Regions from separate parts of the Homo sapiens genome. Here region 2 is reported to be linked to region 1. Evidence: microRNA targets listed by miRTarBase, many of them from high-throughput screens and not tested one by one. Region 1 holds a microRNA gene; the other region holds the end of a gene's coding sequence.
Evidence for each region. The annotated mature microRNA hsa-miR-3614-3p reads UAGCCUUCAGAUCUUGGUGUUUU and lies in region 1 at 2,341-2,363, shown strand. An mRNA with a match to its seed (bases 2 to 7 or 8) in the 3' UTR can be bound and repressed. Matches are read on the target gene's strand: a 7mer-m8 pairs with bases 2 to 8, a 7mer-A1 pairs with bases 2 to 7 and ends in A, and an 8mer does both.

Region 1 (5,374 bases):
CACGTGCAACACTCCAGGCAGCACCTGCCAGTGGTACCCACTTCCATGTGGAGGCCAAAGCCAATCACTGAAAAATATAGCCCTTCCTTTATCATAAGCAGCTGCAGCAGGCTTGGTGGGGATCTGTGGGTCCCTTGCTTTTTCAGGGCTGGCCTTCTTGTAGCCCTCCGCTGTCCCTGCCCCCCAAGAGAGGCCCAGACCAGCCCTGGGCTGCAGCTAACTCTTGCCCAAGCTGCTAGCGGCGGTGCTGAGCCACGTCTTTCAGGAGCTGCTGTGCACTCTGTGGCAGCCGCATAAACAGGGAAAGTAAAATTCTATCAACTTAGGGCCTTTTCCACCCCCAGCTTATTCATTTTGCCTTGGGGGAAACTCGGGCTCCAGTGAAAAGTGTCATGCCCTGAGCCACCTAGCAAATGAGTGCCTCGCTTGGCTCCCTGCTGCCCACCAGTTAAAGTCTAGCCTCCTAAGCCCTTCCCTTTCTAGCCCCAACATGTTTCCCTTCTCCTGCTGCATCTGTGTTCCCAGCCACCCAGCTTCCCCGATCCCAGCACATGCGAATCCCCTTGGCACTCCGTGGCTTCACTCTCACTGTTCCCTCTGTCTGGAACAGCTTTTCTCTCTCTGTTCTCCTCTGTCTAGTTCTCATCTTCTGTTACTTGGCTCCAATTCCAGCCTGCCAGTGAAATGTTCCCCAACTGTAGCATCAGTTGCCTTGTCTCTGTGTCCCTACAGTGTGTGCTTACCCTTTTGGCAGAGTGTGAGTCTCATGGTGTTGTTACTGATGGACTTGCCTTGCTTGTTGGAGTGTGAACTCCATGAGGCCCGGCACCTTGTCTCTCTGGTTCATGGTTGTGCATCTTGTGCCAGAATCTGGTGTCAGTCAGGTGCCTGGTAAATGGTTTTGGATGGATGAATGGACAGACATACGGATGACTGATAGATGATAGATGGCTGGCTGGCTGGACAGAATGGATGGATGAATGGATGGATAGATGAGCTGATGAATAATGGATGGGTGGATAGATGGGTGGATGGATAAATGGACAGATGGATAGATAAGTGGATAGATTAATGAATGAATGAATGGATAAATGGAAAGGCAGAAGGATGGATAGATAAGTGGATAGATGGATGAATGGAAGAATGGATAGATAGGTAGATAGATGGGTATATGGATACATGGGTAGATGGATAGATGGATGGATGGATACATGGATGGATTGATGGATACATGGATAGACAGATAGATGGATGAATAGACAGACAGATGGATAGATGAGTGGATGGATGGACCAATGGGTAGATGGGTGCATGGATGGATAAAACTAGTGAATAAATAGTACCACTTTGGCAAAGGTCTAAAAGAGCACTTTGGGCCCCTTGTAATTAATTCCTTGGGGTGATGTTTTCTCAGATTACATTAAAGTCATCCTGGACTACAACACCGCCCACAACAAAGTGGCTCTGTCAGAGTGCTATACAGTAGCTTCTGTGGCTGAGATGCCTCAGAACTACCGGCCGCATCCCCAGAGGTTCACATACTGCTCTCAGGTGCTGGGCCTGCACTGCTACAAGAAGGGGATCCACTACTGGGAGGTGGAGCTGCAGAAGAACAACTTCTGTGGGGTAGGCATCTGCTACGGAAGCATGAACCGGCAGGGCCCAGAAAGCAGGCTCGGCCGCAACAGCGCCTCCTGGTGCGTGGAGTGGTTCAACACCAAGATCTCTGCCTGGCACAATAACGTGGAGAAAACCCTGCCCTCCACCAAGGCCACGCGGGTGGGCGTGCTTCTCAACTGTGACCACGGCTTTGTCATCTTCTTCGCTGTTGCCGACAAGGTCCACCTGATGTATAAGTTCAGGGTGGACTTTACTGAGGCTTTGTACCCGGCTTTCTGGGTATTTTCTGCTGGTGCCACACTCTCCATCTGCTCCCCCAAGTAGGCAGGCTGTAGGCACTTGGGCTGACTGCCTGCAGAAGTCCCAAGACCCTAGTGAAAATACAGCAGGCAGAACTCTCCTTGGATAATTCCCCAAGAGGTCCCAAGGATTGGGAGCATGGGAGGGGAGCTGGCGGGAGGGTGGGAGGTGGGATTTAGCCAGGAAAGGGGTGAGAGTGATTGTGTTGTGGGCGAGGAGGCGTTTCCACCCCCTGGTGCCTATCAGGGCAGGGTGACCTACTCCCCATTGTTCTGGAAATCTCCAGGCTGCTGGGCAGCTGGGCAGAGCTCTGGGAAGTGAAGTCATGAGTGCCCGATTCCTCTTAGAGAAAATCCATAGCTACTGTAGGTTCTGTCTTGGGCCACTTGGATCTGAAGGCTGCCCCTTTGCTCTCTGGGGTAGCCTTCAGATCTTGGTGTTTTGAATTCTTACTATAGATGTTTTTAAAGTTCCAAAGTCATTGAGTTTCAATGTTACATAAACTCCATTACCCGCATGTTGGGGCTTGATCTCCTGGTTATTATCTGTGCTTGAGGAAACACCCACAGCAGTCTCTACCCAGAACAGTTTCCTAAAGAGGCATACCCTCTTCCTCCACTGGAAAATAGTGCGTTCCCTTCCTACCCTGCACACCCATCGCCCCCACATTGATGGTTTTCAAACAGCAAACTTTTCAGCTAAAGCTTCAAACCATGATTGGAATCAGCCTGTGTTGGATTTGTGATTCAGGGTCATGGTGACCCTGATCCAGTTTGGGTGGAAATCCTTCCTAAGTATCATAAGAAGCATCTTGGCAGAGATGCTTTGGTGGCAGCCATGAGCTTTGCTGGAGGCCTTGCTTCCCATAGCCTTGGCTGTGGGGCAAGGAACTCTGCCAGGCGAGGGGGATGCTGCCCTGGATCAACAGAAGCCTGGTGGGTTTGCTCGTGTTAGAGTGTCCTGCCTTCTTACTGACAACTCTTCTCGGTGATAGCCTCTCTTCCCTGGATTGTGACATATGGAATGACAGTGCAGGTACCACCGAGGCTAGCACAGTCAAGCCTCCAGCTAAGCTGGATCCCTGAAGCCTGCTATCATGCAGACAGGCTATGCGGCTGCCTCGGACCATGCTAGGCCACTTGCTGGGGTGTCAACCTACCACCAAAGGGGTCTTTTAGCAAACCTCATGGGGAACAGGAACATTCCTGTTCATCCCTGGCCACAGGCTGCAGACCCAGCACTGGCCCTTGCGTGAGTCAGAGCCTGGGGCTGGCCCTAGCCCCTTCTACTGACTTCCTCATTTAAGCCAATTATATAAGCTCACATTGATCAGGGAGGGAGGGAAAGAGCTAAAGAGGGTCACACAAGTGGCTATTTTCCCTGCAGTGTTTCTGTGTGGTGAAAATAACCCAGTCCACTAAGGGGCGGGAGTGAATGGATGGCTGGATTTTCCCCAAGCTCCTTATAGCCTAATGTTGTCAGGATGTGAGTATGAGGAATTTAGCCTCTTATAGTGAAATGAGTCCAACTCTGGGCTTTGCTTAGAGGAGAGCTCCTGTCAGGCTTCCTATAATATGAAAAGAAGTCACCATTGGGGAACTAGAGACCCCAGACCTTTTCATATGGATATTTGAGAATGTAATGCATCTCAGGCCTCGTGCTGGAACTCTAGGGCACTCTAGGCAGGCTCAGAACACTTGATATTCCTGACAGCTACACACCTGACATGCAGGTACATACCTGATCGGTGTCATCTCCTAACAAGGATTTTCAGTTCCTCGGGAGAGCAATAATCTTTGTAGGAAAGACATCCCTGCAATAGGTGATATGTGGTCCTTAGAAGTTTTATTCCTTTACTACTTGGAAGAAAAGTTCTTTGGTGATTCTTCTCTGCTTTTGAAGATGATCAAAAGCATCTTCATTGATTTTCTGAAACGAAAGCCTTGTCTGAAACCAATTAATACTTGGGAAACAGCTGGGCTTGGAGGAGTAGAATGCCAGAGATAAATCCATGGCTCCTGCTCTGGCTCTCTTCTGCAGAAATGAGGGCAACAGTGAGGCCACTTCCCTGGCAAATGTGCAGCTCAGGATAGGGAAGCATAAGACCCTCTGTTTAAAAGAGAGTCAAGTAGGTAACCAAAGCCAAGCTCTGTGCAAGGTGCTTTGGAGTTGTAAATTGAGGAGTGCATCCTTGCTGTCTTGAACCATTCTGTTTGCAATGGTGAGACCTTACATAACCTAGCCTTGCAGGGCCGCCACACAACCCTGGAGTCCTAGAGTTGGAGGAACCTTTGTATCCATCTGACTTCTCATTTTGCAGAATATGATGAGAAAGTAGAGGATCGCTCTGTTCACCACTCTTGCTATTCCATTAGTGGGGAGATGCCTGCTAGCATGTGTGAGGGGAACACTCTGATACACTGGGAAGTATCGGAAATTCCCAGAAACACAAACATAAAATAACTCTCCTAGACCCAGGTACTGGGGACTGTCTCAGTCCGTGTGGCATGATAAATAAAAGGTTAGGATCAAGTCTTTGTATTTTTCAAGATGTGGTAGCTGATTATTCCTGTTTTAAGTACTCTGAAATTGATCTGTGATCAATAATACTAATATGTTATCTTTTACCGTATTCTGCCTCTCACTATTGATTTTAATTAGTTAGGAGTATTTGAGCTGTTATTTCTTGAGCTTAATATTTTTTTAGAGTTAACTCTTTAAGGAGATAATCATGGCTGTAGACAAGGCCAGGGCTGGCTGACGTGCCTTAGAAGGTTTGAATGCAATAAAGCGGTGTTTGGCGTTCTCCTGCATTGTAGTGCGGGTACAAAATGCTATTTGTTCGTCATACTGTTGTCAGCAGATGAGCCGCCCACTACAGACGGCTACTGCCCAGGGACCTGCCCAGGCCCCACCCAAGGGCTCCCAAGGGTTGAGATTTCTGCAGACCTATAGCCAGCACACTTAGTCCTGCCCTATATAGAGTTCCTCTTCGGGAAGCTTTTGATAAGGAATTCTCAGACCGATAGGATGTCTGTCTGGGCTTTGCTGCGGGACAGTCTAACTGTGGGGGCTAGGGGAAAGCAGGAGAGTATCGATCAAAGAGTAAGCCACACACGGATAATCAGTTACTAGGGATGGAGGTGTGAGGGTTCATTATATTATTCATTTTACTGTTGTATATGTTTGAAAATGTCTATAATAAAAAGCTTTAAAAAAAAAAAAGAAACAAAAATAGTTCAGGCCAGCAATGGGCCCTCCATGTTCAGTGGATTTTATCCTTGTTTCAATTGGGGTAGGAGTTCCAGGAGGTGTGGATTGGAGGTTGTCTAAAGAATTGAACTGGCCTTTGTCCCTGCTTCCTGGGAGGGAGACTTTCAGTCCTTGACATTTCCAGGGTAATAGGAGTGTCTTTGTTATTTGTGAGGCCATGGGATCACACCTGAGCTTATGC
Region 2 (5,374 bases), not on the chromosome of region 1:
TGGAGTGCGGTGGTGCAATGTTGGCTCACTGCAGTCTCAAGCTCCCCGGGCTCAGATGATCCTCCCACCTCAGCCTCCTGAACAGCTGGGACTATAGGCATGTACCACCATGCCTGGCTAGTTTTTGTATTTTTTGTAGAGACAGGGTTTTGCTGTGTTGCCCAAGCTGGTCTCAAACTCCTGGGTTCAATTCTTCTGCCCGCCTTGGCCTCCCAGAGTGCTGGGATTAAGGCATGAGCCACTGCATCTGGTGGCCCCCATAGTTTTCTTCTCCTGGGTGTTAAAAGTAGCATTTCACTGTCAGGAAGCTACAGAAGAGAGAGCGAGGAAAATCAAGCTGCGGCGCTGTGTGCTCTTAGCCATGGTACCTTCCCTTACAGTCCATGGAGAAAGAGGGCCAATGCCAGGAGGCTGTGGGTTTGTGACGGGAGATGACTTTCCCTTTGATAGTTGTGACGCCTGTTTCTGGACCCCATGCACCTTCCGGAATATTCCTGCCTGCTCACTGCCGTCTTCCCCTTTCCTTGCAGATGTGTACTTCATCGCCACCTTGTCATTCTTGTGGAAAGTCTCCGTCATCACTCTGGTCAGCTGCCTCCCCCTCTATGTCCTCAAGTACCTGCGAAGACGGTTCTCTCCCCCCAGCTACTCAAAGCTCACATCATAGGCCGTGCGTTCGCTGGAGGGGGCCCTGGTCTTGGCGCTTCCCTGATGGACAGAGCTCAAGTTCCATTTATATTAACCGCCACCTGTGGATTTTGCAGTAATTGCTAACACATGCAGTTTTAATGGGAAGTGGCTCTGCGCCTAAACGGAGTCCTAACGCTGCATCAACGGGAGGGAGGGTCCTGAAAGAGACCCATCTGGGCCTGTCTGAACCCCTCGTTCTTCATGTTTAGGTGAATATGAATATGTTAAAGCTGGTGGCTCAGCTGGGAGATTTATATGGGTCACTGTGCGAGCTTCCTTATGACTTGAATTTTGTTGTCACATGATAAAAGTTTCTGTGTAGCTGAAGGTTGTAGAAGGCTTGTGTGTGTGTGTGTGTGTGTGTGTGTGTGTGTGTGTGTTTTTAAAGAGTCCTAATGTGTATGTACTCTTTATGTCTTTCTTGCTCTTACAAAGAGGTGTCAGAAAAATAGAAAGCTCTTGGTGTCGGTTTGGGAGGAAAAGACAGTGACATTTGGTAAAAAGTTATCCACACAATAATCTCCATTCGGAAATGCTCAGTATCGTCTCCAGCCAGCCCTGCTTATCCAGGTTACACTGGATTCCTGGGATCGTAACCAGTAAATGAGAGGAGAGGGAGAGAGAGTGTCCTAAGTCCAATCTGTTATCCTTGATCTGATTCAGCATCCATAGTGTGTGAGTTAACTTCACCTGCCACCTCGTAAAAGAATTTCAGAGGTGTGATCCCGCTTTATTGGGACCTGGTAACAATCACAAAGCCAGTGGCTGTTTGAGAAGGACCTCAGACATTTTCAGCAGAGTTGTTTTAGCAGGAAACGTGCCACTGAATGGCCCCTAAATGTGTCGACAGTGTGATAAGAGACTCAACTAATTCTTTAGGCAACATGGCAGATGTGACTCAGATCCTCCAAGACCAAAGCGGAAAGGTCAGGGGGCTGGGACTCTTCTCTTCCATAGAAGCCTGTTTCCTGTTAGGAGGCATAATGGAAGATGACCCCACAAAGGCAGAGGCATCTTTCGGAACAACACTGGTGGCAGCTTTCAGAACAAGGAACCCCTGGTGGGAGGACGCCCAAGCTACAGCGTTGGGATCTGGGATCTGTTCCACTGCCGGCAGATTTCAAGGGGAACTTGCTGAAAGGCAGCCAGTGGTGAAGATTTCTCCCCTCCCAGGATGGACTACATGCCGGCATGTTTCTTATAAAGCTGTGGCTGCTTGTTTCAGAGGAAGGGAGTTTGCAGTCGCGGGACGTGGTAGAGCAAGGCATTCTTGGGTTTTCAAGTTGCTTCTTGCAGAAGCCACATATGCATGCCATAAGGGTTAAGTTGGTGGATCTTTAAGAGCCAAGTGTGGTTGAGATCTTGGATTTGCGTTTACTTCTTGATGAATACATATCCTTCAAACCCTCTGCCTGGCGCTACTTCTGTGTGCTTCAGAGATGTACATCACAGCCTGGTTTCTGATGCCTACTAACTCCTGCTCTTGGAGAGCTGGAGACACGAGGATCAGATAGTCCCTTGCCTTTGGAGCACTCTTGATAAGCTTTTGTATTTTGTGTTGTCCTTTTAAAATGTTCTAGAATGACTTTACGTTGCAGGTACTGGTTAATTGGCTGTTGACACCACATCTATTTTGTCTTATGATTCTGCAGTTTTGCAGTACTTTTCTCTATCTGATTCAGCCATTTCTGCCAGAGGGAAAAGGTCGGCAGAAAAGATGTATTGAGTGAATAGTTAAGGATAGGATCTTTGTCCAAAAATTTCAGAAAGATTGAGCAAATCTGACGTATTCATTGAGTGAGTTTCTGTGTTTTCAAAGGTGGAGGAGAAATTTGTGCTGGAAGTTTTTAAGCCTCCGTTTTCTTGGAAATCAGTCTGTAACACTGGCAAGTCTTAAGATAGTCCCATTTAGACTTTGCAGATGCTGAACCTGGCTCTGTAACGCTGGGAAGTCTTAAGATAGTCCTGTTTAGACTTTGCAAACCCTGTACCTGGCTTTGCTCGGAGATTCGGGATGCTGGCTCCTGCAGGCAGGGCGTGTGGGAGCCTCGTCAGAAAGTTTTAGAGGTTTCCAGCAGAAGCAGAATGAAGATGGTCTCCCTGGCCTTTTCCTTAATTCTCAATTTTGATTGAGGTGCACAAGTTGACTTTTAAAGCCAACGCTTAAGATACTGATTGACATCTTCAAGGGAGAATGCTCCCAGGAGGGGCTGAAGAAGCCATAGTTGGAAGTGGAAGGTACTCGTCAGTGTTCTCCACAAACCTTTTTACTCTGTTGTCTCAGCCGCACTGGGGCGGAGGCGGTCAAGGGTGAGAAGTACCGACACTCAAGTGCAAACTGCCACGTCGTTGGCCCATCCCATCAGTGGGCAGCTGGCTGACGCCATTCACTGGACGGTCCCTGAACACCTAGGAATGCACACACCGTGCTTCTCAGACACTGGAGACGCAAAGGCAGGAGGATGCAGTCCGGTGAGAGGACACGATCTTTACCTGCACAATCAGACTGTAAGCCCAGCAGAGAACCCCAGGGGCGCCTGGGTACTTCTCGGAGGTCATCTTAGTTGTGGTGGGGAAGACAAAGAAATAAGCAAACAAGAAACTAGAGTTACTATACAAGAAACTCTCCTGAGTTTGTAAACCTTAAGCATAAGGATTCAGTTGACCTTTTTCTTGGTTCATCAATCTGGAAAGAACTTACATAAAGCGCCATTGACACTGTCACCTGGGAGCTCCATGGGCCGTAAGTCTTTGACAGCCAATTTAATTTGAGGTCAGAGGGCCTTGAGGTACACAGTCAGCACTGTTTGAACACTTTTCCTGAAAGCAAAACTCACAGCTCCCTGCGCCCTCTGACAACACTAGCTATTTCTGCCAGAGTAAGAACTTCTATTACTATTTTATTATTGTTCATATGTCTTTTGATGATGGTTGTGTGACAGGGGGAAGCAGGATCTATTTGGTTTCTTCCCCTCCCCCCACCCCTTCCTTTTTGTCTCTCTTTTTTTTTCTCTAAGAAAATCACCAGACTAGTTTTTCCATCTTGAGTAATTTCTTATGTGGGACAGTTTTGATCCTCATTTTGAAAGCATGCGTGTGCACATGTGTGTTGCCTGTGGTGCCAGGTGAGACAGGTGGCACTAACTCCAGCTGCTTGGAAGGCATCCCAAGGGCGCATCTTAAAGTTGGAGCAGACCTCCCTTTTCCAGCCCCTGGGGCCATTAGACCACGTGCTGGAACTAGCATTGTAAAATTCCCATCCCAGTTCCACTCCCCTGAAGTGAAACCCTTTTTTTTTTGTGACAGTAAATCTTAAAAATCATTGTCTCTTTATGAACATTTCCTCAGTTTCTTCTCTGCTGAAAATGTAAGCCATGCTACTTTTTAATGTATTTTGAATTTTGTGCTCATTGGAAATTGATATGCTAATGCCTCCCCCACCCCCCGCCAGACTTTTCTTTTTATACTTTGTCTTGTTTTTACTGGGGTAGGCTGGGCATGCGTGCGTGCCTTTAGGGCAGCATTTTAAACCTTTGCCAAAATTGCAAATGGGACATGTACATTCTTCTGCTCCATCCTACTTAAACACCTATCAGCTATTTTTATCTTTAACCTTTTCTGTATGTTTGAAGTGTGTGGGGGGTGTGTGTGTGTGTGAAAGAGCGAGAGAATGATGTCATCTAAAGTTTTTTGAAGAATTATTTGGTTTTCATTGCATTAAAATTCTATCACTCCCAGCTTTGTTTTCATTTAAAAAAATATACAAAGAGCTTTGTAAATACAACACATTTTATTTCTCCCCCTTCTTTTAATGTACAGCTTTTTTGCCACTTATATATACTTAAAATATTCCCATGAATTATGTCCAGTTCTTCTTGGAAAAAAATTTGGTTTTGAATGAACCTGCAAAGCATCCTGCAGCGTGAGCAGCTCCTCCACCTGGAGCTCCGAAGCATCTTCTCAGGCCAAAGCGGCATTACCCGTGAATCTGTCTTCTCCGCCACAGCATGGTTTGAGGCGCAGTCTGTTAATATAGCTGGGCCATGTCAGTGACTGTTGTGTTTGTGGGGTCAGGTGGGGGGCATGGTATTTGCAAAAAAAACAAATTATGGCTAATTTATTATTTTGTTGCAGTGGGGTTAACTGTAAACTCATGTAAGAGTCTGTGATTTCCTCATTGGTTGATCTCTCTCTCTGTAATCCTCATTGCAAATTTTCACCAGGACAGCGTTTTTTGATTAGAGGGGAGCTCTGGCACAGTATGCTTTAATTTAGCAGGAACTTCCAGATGATTTAAATTCTCGATGCTGTGATGACACACATATGATCTTTCGTGTTTCTGAGCGACTCTACTTTCATTGTTTGCCAGCGTGGCTCGTTGCTGTTGCCCAATAAAGCTTGTGTACGTTCTGCCTTGGGGGATTATTTTAATTTGTACAGAAACATGAATTCTGGTATCAAAATGAGGACTTTTTATTATAACGCTCCTATTTTTTCTTTATTTCATGGTACATGAAATGTAAAGAAAACTCTTTCCAGTTCAGAAAATTATTTTGATTTTGGCAAAAAAAACCCCAAATCAATGCATGTTATTTATTATTTTGTACTATTGTCCATCCCAGACGTGTCAGAATTTCAAAAGGTGATAGATATAAATGGAAAATAAGATGAAAACCATAAGCTT

Region 2: the mRNA of ATP9A is a reported target of hsa-miR-3614-3p. Seed matches in the 3' UTR shown: 7mer-m8 at 1,025-1,031.

The regions. Positions count from the first base shown.
Region 1 is chr17:56,888,270-56,893,643 of GRCh38, reverse strand. It overlaps MIR3614 (microRNA 3614), which reads left to right and starts at 2,289; the gene lies at 2,289-2,374. It overlaps TRIM25 (tripartite motif containing 25), which reads left to right. Exons shown (of 9, transcript NM_005082.5): 9 at 1,415-5,374. The coding sequence ends at 1,944.
Region 2 is chr20:51,596,504-51,601,877 of GRCh38, reverse strand. ATP9A (ATPase phospholipid transporting 9A (putative)) reads left to right here. Exons shown (of 28, transcript NM_006045.3): 28 at 531-5,364. The coding sequence ends at 667. Among named protein-coding and RNA genes, the nearest start is that of NFATC2, 56 kb to the right of the region's middle.